3 separate regions of the Homo sapiens genome follow, and all the other regions are linked to region 1. Evidence: fine-mapped expression QTL. A gene starts in region 1. Each other region holds a variant in brackets. All regions are shown on one strand. Distances are from middle to middle. Region 1 holds the start of RWDD1 (RWD domain containing 1). Region 2 overlaps TRAPPC3L (trafficking protein particle complex subunit 3L). Region 3 overlaps TRAPPC3L (trafficking protein particle complex subunit 3L).

Region 1 (2,853 bases):
AATGCCACCTTCCTTGCCAAATTTGATTCTGTCTTCCTCACTTATTTTGGTCAACAGAACTTCGTCTTTCCAGTTCTTCCAGCCAAAAATCATCCTTGACTCCCCACTTAGGACTTAATGCACTAGCTGTTTCCTCTGGCAGCTCTTTCCTCATAATAAATCAGTATAATTCCTCTGAACTGAGGCGATCCAAAAAAAATGAGCAACTTATACTTGCAAAGTTACTTTATGTATTTTATTTGATTGTCATCATAGTTAGGAGACTCCACTTTTTCATTAAAGTTTAAAAGAACGCCTGAAATCAACCCTTAATACCGTAAACACGGAATCAGTATCAAAGTGTTCCTCTGCTATAGGTAAGCAGCACTCCTCAATAAAAGATCAAGGTGCCTTCTGGTGCTTCAGGGGCTTCATCATTAGGAATCTTTCATTTAAAAAGTGTTCCTCCCACTATACCAGTGAAACCAGCTTTAATACAGAGAAATCAAAACAAAGAAAAATACAGAAAAGTGGGCAACAGCTTTTGAGTATTTTCTTAAAATTTTCCATTTTTCGACTTAGCGCAATAATATAATAAAGGAACATGGGATCCTTTATTATTGTTACCATAGTTTTTAATATCATTTTCATAAAGCTAACCATGTTTATTTAGCCATTTTCTTAGCTTTTGCCATCATGGTTCTTTGAAAATTTTCTTTGTAATTGCTGCAATGATTTTGGAGATCACAGATGCATGCTACTTGCTCAAGTTTATTCTTGGAAGTCGTATTACCAAATTAAAGGTTCTCAACATTTCTCGGGGTACTGCAATTTTTACATTGCATATGATAATTGTTATTACTGAGATCTACATTCCTTTCATCAATTCACAAATACACAATCACAGACATCTTGAGATCTATCATACGTCCAGCTGCGTTCATTTCACAAAATCAGAAGTTAAGCCTAAAGATCTGAACCGAGAAGCCGGACCTCCGGTCTATTTCTCCCTCCTGGATCCACCCCGACTTATTAAGCAGTTAGACCGACCCTTCCATACTCATTCAAGGCAGTGCAGAGCTTTTGCTCCCCTGCCCAGTGGAATCTACACTGGTCCCAGCCTCTCGTCCAACTCCCGTAGGACGCCAAGCAATACGGAGTTCGAGAAGCTCAGAAATCTCCTGAGCCCCACCAGTCCACACTAGGTTGCAAGCCCGCAGCACCTACGCCACGGCGTCAAACCGGAAACCAGAAAAGGTGAAGGCATCGGACGCCCCTCGCCCCAGCCCGGCCACCAGCGACACTATCCTTCACTGACGCGCGATGCCGGCCTTTCAGCCCAGACTCATCGAGCGAGGATGCAGCGCTGAGAGGCTTCTAAGGCTCAGGCCCTGCAAAGCCCAGGAGCCGGCTGTAGGTGTCCTTGGCGAATGCCAGACCGCGCGCACCGTCCCAGCAAGTCCCGAGCGAGTGTGGGACAGGCAGCAAATCAGTGCCCCCTGGCCAGGCAGAACGAGTCGAACGTGGAAGTAGGGAGCAGGCGGAGGCCGGCGCGGAGCTGCAGTTAAGCAAGCCGGGTCTGGCTTTGGGCCCTGGGCCTTCCAGCCGGGGACTCTGCGCCTGCGCCCGCCTGGCCGCCGCCCGCTCTCCCGGCGCGGCAGCTGTCTGGGCTGCTGCGCGCCGCCTAGGTGTCTGGGCGATCTATGGGCAAGAGCAAGGGCCACGATGACAGATTACGGCGAGGAGCAGCGCAACGAGCTGGAGGCCCTGGAGTCCATCTACCCTGACTCCTTCACAGGTGACTCCCGCGGCCGCAAGCCTGTAGCCGCCCCGAGGTGGAGTAGGACGGGCAGGAGCTGCCGCAGCTCTGGGCCTCATAGGTTGGGGTGGAGAAGGGGACCTTGAGGCCGCGCGGCCACCTTGCCCTCCACTCCTCAAGTTCTTCAGTCACTTACCAGCAACCCAGTGACTTTTTCTCCTTCTCTGCTTGTTCCCGGAAATCTAAAAGTCCGGGTGATGTTGGAGGGTGTCAGGCCTGAAAATTGAGTCGGGATTACTTTGGTTTCTGTGTAACCTACAGCAACCTGAGATTTATAATACATTAAGAGAAAAAATACTCCAAGTGCGATTCGTTTTTCCACAGCCGCAAGAATGTTAGTTTTCACATTTTTAGCTTTATTAAGGTAGAAACTGTTTTTCATACGATGCTGTTTTAGTTTATAGGATTCAGAGTGCTGTTTTCAGTTACTCAAATCGGTTTTGAGAGTAGCATAGTCCCTGAAGTCTGTCGGGTTTCTTTTCTTATGAAAAAAAAAAAAATCTGGCATTCAGCAGAATGCCTAATGGATAATGTGGCCCAAATTTCCGTTCTGCTATAAATTCATAGGTTGTTAGATTGGAAGGGAGATTAAACATCATCTATCCTGGGGCTCCTGCTCCAAGCCAAGGTCATGGGGGTTCAGGAAAGCTAAGTGGCTTGCTCTGTACTGTCCGCCAGCGAGTTAGCGGCAGGGCTGGTACTGAGTTATACGTCCAGAACGCTTGCCTGTTCTTTCACTTTCCAGACATATGGGACTTGGGATTCAGCTCCAGCTGAGATTGAGAGAGCAGAAGATTACTTGGTAGGTTGGGCTAATGTAAAATATTATAATGAGAAGTTCATTAGGTATAATTTAGAGGACGAGATTTCTCTATTAAGCCATGCTTCGGATGATTATAAAAATGCTACATAACTATATCAATATGGCTCCTCTGAGATTTGAGAAGCGGTCAAATAAAGCCAATATGAGTGAGTAGAACCTAGGTGTGTGCATTTACATTCCCCATCCTTTCCTTTGAGTGTTGCCTATCGTTGATAGTCAGAATTTATAGTGT
Region 2 (2,500 bases), 70 kb before region 1:
CAGGAACTTCATGAAGCTTCCTGCCAACTGCCAGCAAGGCACTGGGGCTGTGTGAGTGAGCTTGGAAGTAGATTCTCCAGCCTCAGTCAAGTCGCCAGAGGTTGCAGCCCTGGCCAGCAGCTTGACTGCATGTGTATTAAGCCATGAAAGACTCTGAATGACAACCACTTAGCTAAGCTGCTCCCAGATTTCTGATCCTCAGAAACTGTGTGAGATAATAAACGTTTGTTTTTTTAAGCTGCTACATTTTGGGGGTAATTTGTAACACACCATTAGATAACCAATATACCCAGCAAAATGAATTATGTATATTGGTTATCTTATTTTAGCCTTAGAAGGACTAAGAGATTCTTCATTCATTCTTCACTTATTCAACTTTACCATTTCCAAGGCACCTCTGATAATCCCACAGAGCAAGTTGCAGTAGCACAGAGAAGATCGCCCAGCAGGGAGCTCTTCCACAAACTCCACCAGGGGATTCTTCTCTAGAATCAGGGAAAATTCATTTTTGCTTGAATTGTTACAGGTCACACTTGGTGTAATTCCCAGGTACATCTTGAAAGCAACCTGATAAGAAAAAAACAAAATTACTAAAACTTGGTCTAGAACAAATAACTATGAGCAGACTAAACAAATACCCAGTTCTAGGCATTGCAGCACAATGGTTAAGCACATGGAGTCTATAGTCAGGAAGTCCGGCTTCACCCTTAGCTTTGCAATTTATTGATCCTATGATGTGAAATTTTTAAATATTTTTACTTGTGAGTCACTTCCAAGATTGTCAAATAGGAACAGCTCTAGTCTATAGCTCCCAGTGAGATCAATGGAGAAGATGGGTAATTTCTGCATTTCCAACTGAGGTACCTGGTTCATCTCACTGGGACTGGTTGGACAGTGGGTGTGGCCCATGGAGAGTGAGCCGAAGCAGGGCAGGGCATCGCCTCATGTGGGAAGTGCAAGGGATCAGGGAATTTCCCTTTCCTAGCCAAGGGAAGCCATGAGTAACTGTACTTGGAGGAACTGTACACTTCTGCCCAAATACTGAGCTTTTCTCACAGTCTTCGCATCTGCAGGAACAGGAGATTCCCTCCCGAGCCTGTGACTGGCTCAGCAGGTCCCACGCCCATGGAGCCTTGCTCACTGCTAGCACAGAAGCCTGAGATCGACCTGAGATGCTGAAGCTTGG[C/T]GGGGGGAGGGGTGTCTGCCATTGCTGAGGTTTGAGTAGGCGGTTCTATGCTCACAGTGTAAACAAAAAGGCAGGGAAGATTGAACTGGGTGGAGCCCACCGCAGCACAGCAAGGCCTACTGCCTCCTTAGATTCCACCTCTGGGGGCAGGGCATATCTGAACAAAAGTCAGCAGAAAACTTCTGCACACTTAAACGTTCCTGCCTGACAGCTCTGAAGAGAGCAGTGGTTCTTCCAGCATGGTGTTTGAGCTCCGATAACAGACAGACTGCTTCCTCAAGTGGGTCCATGACCCCCATGTAGCCTGACTGGGAGACATCTCCCCGTGGGAGCTGACAGACACCTCATACAGGCAGGTGCCCCTCTGGGACAAAGCTTCCAGAGGAAGGATCAGGCAGCAATTATCTGCTGTTCTGCAGCCTCCGCTGGTGATACCCAGGCAAACAGAGTCTGGAGTGGACCTCCAGAAAACTCCAACAGACCTGCAGCTGAGGTGCCTGTCTGTTAGAAGGAAAACTAACGAACAGAAAGGAATAGCATCAACATCAACAAAAAGGACATCCACACCAAACCCCATCCATAGGTCACCAACATCAAAGACCAAAGGTAGATAAAACCACAAACATGGGGAGAAACCAGAGCAGAAAAGCTGAAAATTCCAAAAACCAGAACACCTCTTCTCCTCCAAAAGAACACAACTCTTTGCCAGCAAGGGAACAAAACTGGATAGAGAATGAATTTGACAAGTTGACAGAAGTAGGCTTCAGAGGTCAGTAATAACAAACTTCTCCGAGCTAAAGAAGCACATTCTAATCCATTGCAAGGAAGGTAAAAACCTTGAAAAAAGGTTAGACGAATGGCTAACTAGAATAACCAGTGTAGAGAAGAGCTTAAATGACCTGATGGAGCTGAAAACCACAGTACAAGAACTTCATGAAGCATACACAAGCTTCAATAGCTGATTCGATCAAGTGGAAAAAAGGATATCAGTGACTGAAGATCAAATTGATGAAATAAAGTGAGAAGGCAAGATTAGAGAAAAAAGGGTGAAAAGAAATGAACAAAGCCTCCAAGAAATATGGGACTATGTGAAAAGACCAAATCTACATTTGATCAGTGTACCTGAAAGTGACGGGGAGAATGGAACCAAGTTAGAAAACACTCTTCAGGATATTATCCAGGAGAACTTCCCCAACCTAGCAAGGCAGGTCAGCATTCAAATTCAGGAAATACAGAGAACACCACAAAGATACTCCTCAAGAAGATCAACCCCAAGACACATAATTGTCAGATTCACCAAGGTTGAAATGAAGG
Region 3 (2,500 bases), 40 kb before region 1:
GAGATTTTAACCAAGTGAAGGGCAGAGATTGAATGAAAATAAACAGGTTCCAGGTCTTTTATTTTATGGCCCCCAGGCTGCATTTCTGAGCCTATACCATAAAGTAAGTTGTGTGTAAGAGGAGTGTGTGCGGAAGAGGGTTGAGGAATGGAAAGCAACTCTAAAACTGAGTTTTACATATTCATCCTAGTAAAAGAAAGAACATTCAGAGGACAGGAAAAAAAATGCCTCCCCATTTTATGCACAGCATTATGATGGCAGCAAAATTCAAGTGTTGTGCATCATACTGGGTGCATTACATCTAGACTTAGACCCAGAATTGTGAAATATGGTGACTTTTAGAGAAGTATTTGTTTTTAAGATGCATGTTATTTAGAAAATGAAGGAAGCCAAATATAATTAGAAAAAAAAAGCAAAGTAAGTAAAATACAGAAGCATAAGGAACAAACCACCCCCCCTCCTTTTTAAGAAAAAGGAAAAAACAGCCTAAGATATGTTACTGTCTCTGACTTGAATGCCCTGGTTTAAGTTCATTTCATCTGGGCACTTTTCCTATTCACATTAAAAATCAGATTGTCTCTGCTAACATTCTTTGAAAAAAGAAAACACACAGAATGTCAAGAGAAAGGACTGAAAAAGACTTAGAAAAAAGAGTAACAAAAGAAAAAGCCCCACAGGATTAGATGACCAGAGCAAACTTTTGTAATTGGTTCCTTTATAAGAAGTTCAAAGGGAAACCTAATACTACCTATTGTAGCACAACATCATTTTTCTTTGGAGAATTTAGTTATCTCCCTTCTACCAAAGCGTTCCTCTGAGCTCACTGTTCTGAATAATGTCTGCCCCACTCTTGCTAATGGTCTAAAATATTTACTTTGCATTAACAATGTGGTTTCACTTGACTGCTTCCAAGTGCAGAGTCATTTTATTTTGAAGTGTTTGCTTTCTTTATTATTATCTGCAAATGTATAACAAAGA[C/A]AGTTTTGTCTACTTCAATACCTTACAGTTAGCATACTAAATGGAGTCTGCAACACTAGTTACGTGCCCCAAATTCTAGCTCTGAAACAAAGAAAAACAAACACCAGCATCAGTAACATAAATAATGTGAGCAGAAGGTTCATAGATAAAGTGAGACTCATATATATATATATATATATATATATATATATATATATATATGTTACTAATTTCCTAGACAAGAAGAACAAGATATTTGTCAATTACTTTGCCCTGTTTTGGAAAATCTTGGAATGTTTTTCATACCCAGATTCCCTTCCTGAGGGGCTCCCTATGATCACCATGTTCTATCTAATTATCCTGCCATTCTGGCCACAGTTAATGGATTAGGGTGGGCATTGTGAGCCTGGACAGTCAGTTCATAGCTTGGCTAGAGCCCTGGAAGTGACCTAGCATGAAACTCTACTTAACACAGGGCTAGTGATTGGCTGGACAGGTTAAAGACTCTCTTTTTGGGACTTTAAATATGAAACACATAGAGAAAGTCACAGTTTGGGTGATTGGGCAGAATGCAAATGACACCCAGAGAAAAGAGAGTAAGCAGAAGCCATGAGGCAACAAAAACTGTGAAACACCAGAAGCAGTGAGGTGGAGAGAAGGAAAAGAAAAATGGAAAGATATTAGTAGGTAATTATAAGAGCAGAACAAGCAGAGAAGGGTTGAGTCATGAAAATGGCACAGGACTGAAGTAGAGAACCACAAAGACTTGCTGCTGAGGGTTCAAGATAGACTAAAACTGTAAGGATTTTCCCATTTTGGTTCTTTCATGGGGTCTGATTATCGTGTCCCAGAATATCTCTACAATAAACCCTAAAGGTCTGACATAAACCAAATGCTGGTAACCTAAAGGAGTCTACCTAACACAATTTGGCTCCATGATGAATTTTAGGATAATTTTCAAGCATTTTCCATAATAATATGAAATGCACTATGTAATGATTTGGTTACCTACTTAATATTTGCATTTTAAATCACAGTTGACCTCAGAGTAGCAGAATGAATATCCCTCTTCTGAAACCTTCTACACTCATATAATAAATAATGGAAAAAACAATAATAAATATACAATTTAATATAATTAAAATTTATTTATATTTAATTTATATTTAATTTTAAAATATAATATAATAAACAATAATGGAAAAAACAAATGTTTCAATAAAATTACCAAGTTGAGTTCGCTGTCATTATTTAATAAGAATCAGTTATTGTCCTGTTCAGGATCCTACCGCAGTTTAAATCTTGTTGCTGTGGATTTGTTATTGTGAACAACCAGGTACTTTTAGAGCACTGATTTTCAGTGTAATGAAAATTGCTTGAAATAAGAGGGCTGCTTCTGCATGTAGTGTTAGTATTGAGCAGACAGGGTAGGAGTCTTTCATTTAAAGACAAATGTGGAGCACTGCCCTCTTCTGGACAGACTAGGAGGAGCAACAGGGTGTAGATGTGAAAAGTTCTTCTAGTATTTTCTCTCTTTTTTGTC

The links. PIP is the estimated chance that this variant, and not a neighbour inherited with it, causes the effect. A credible set is the group of variants that fine-mapping cannot tell apart.
Region 2: its variant is the best candidate, but not a certain one, in a credible set for the expression of RWDD1 in skeletal muscle (GTEx, PIP 0.56).
Region 3: its variant is the best candidate, but not a certain one, in a credible set for the expression of RWDD1 in monocytes (TOPMed, PIP 0.52).

What each region holds. Positions count from the first base shown.
Region 1 is chr6:116,569,879-116,572,731 of GRCh38, forward strand. RWDD1 (RWD domain containing 1) reads left to right here and starts at 1,626. Exons shown (of 7, transcript NM_015952.4): 1 at 1,626-1,777. The coding sequence starts at 1,705. RefSeq lists enhancers at 1,021-1,200, 1,231-1,560, 1,781-1,880 and a silencer at 1,601-1,680.
Region 2 is chr6:116,500,100-116,502,599 of GRCh38, forward strand. TRAPPC3L (trafficking protein particle complex subunit 3L) reads right to left here. Exons shown (of 5, transcript NM_001139444.3): 4 at 382-567. Among named protein-coding and RNA genes, the nearest start is that of CALHM5, 10 kb to the right of the region's middle. The variant C/T (reference allele first, on the strand shown) is at 1,187.
Region 3 is chr6:116,529,766-116,532,265 of GRCh38, forward strand. All of the region lies in intron 3 of TRAPPC3L (trafficking protein particle complex subunit 3L), which reads right to left. It also overlaps a transcript of CALHM4 not described here. Among named protein-coding and RNA genes, the nearest start is that of TRAPPC3L, 15 kb to the right of the region's middle. The variant C/A (reference allele first, on the strand shown) is at 979.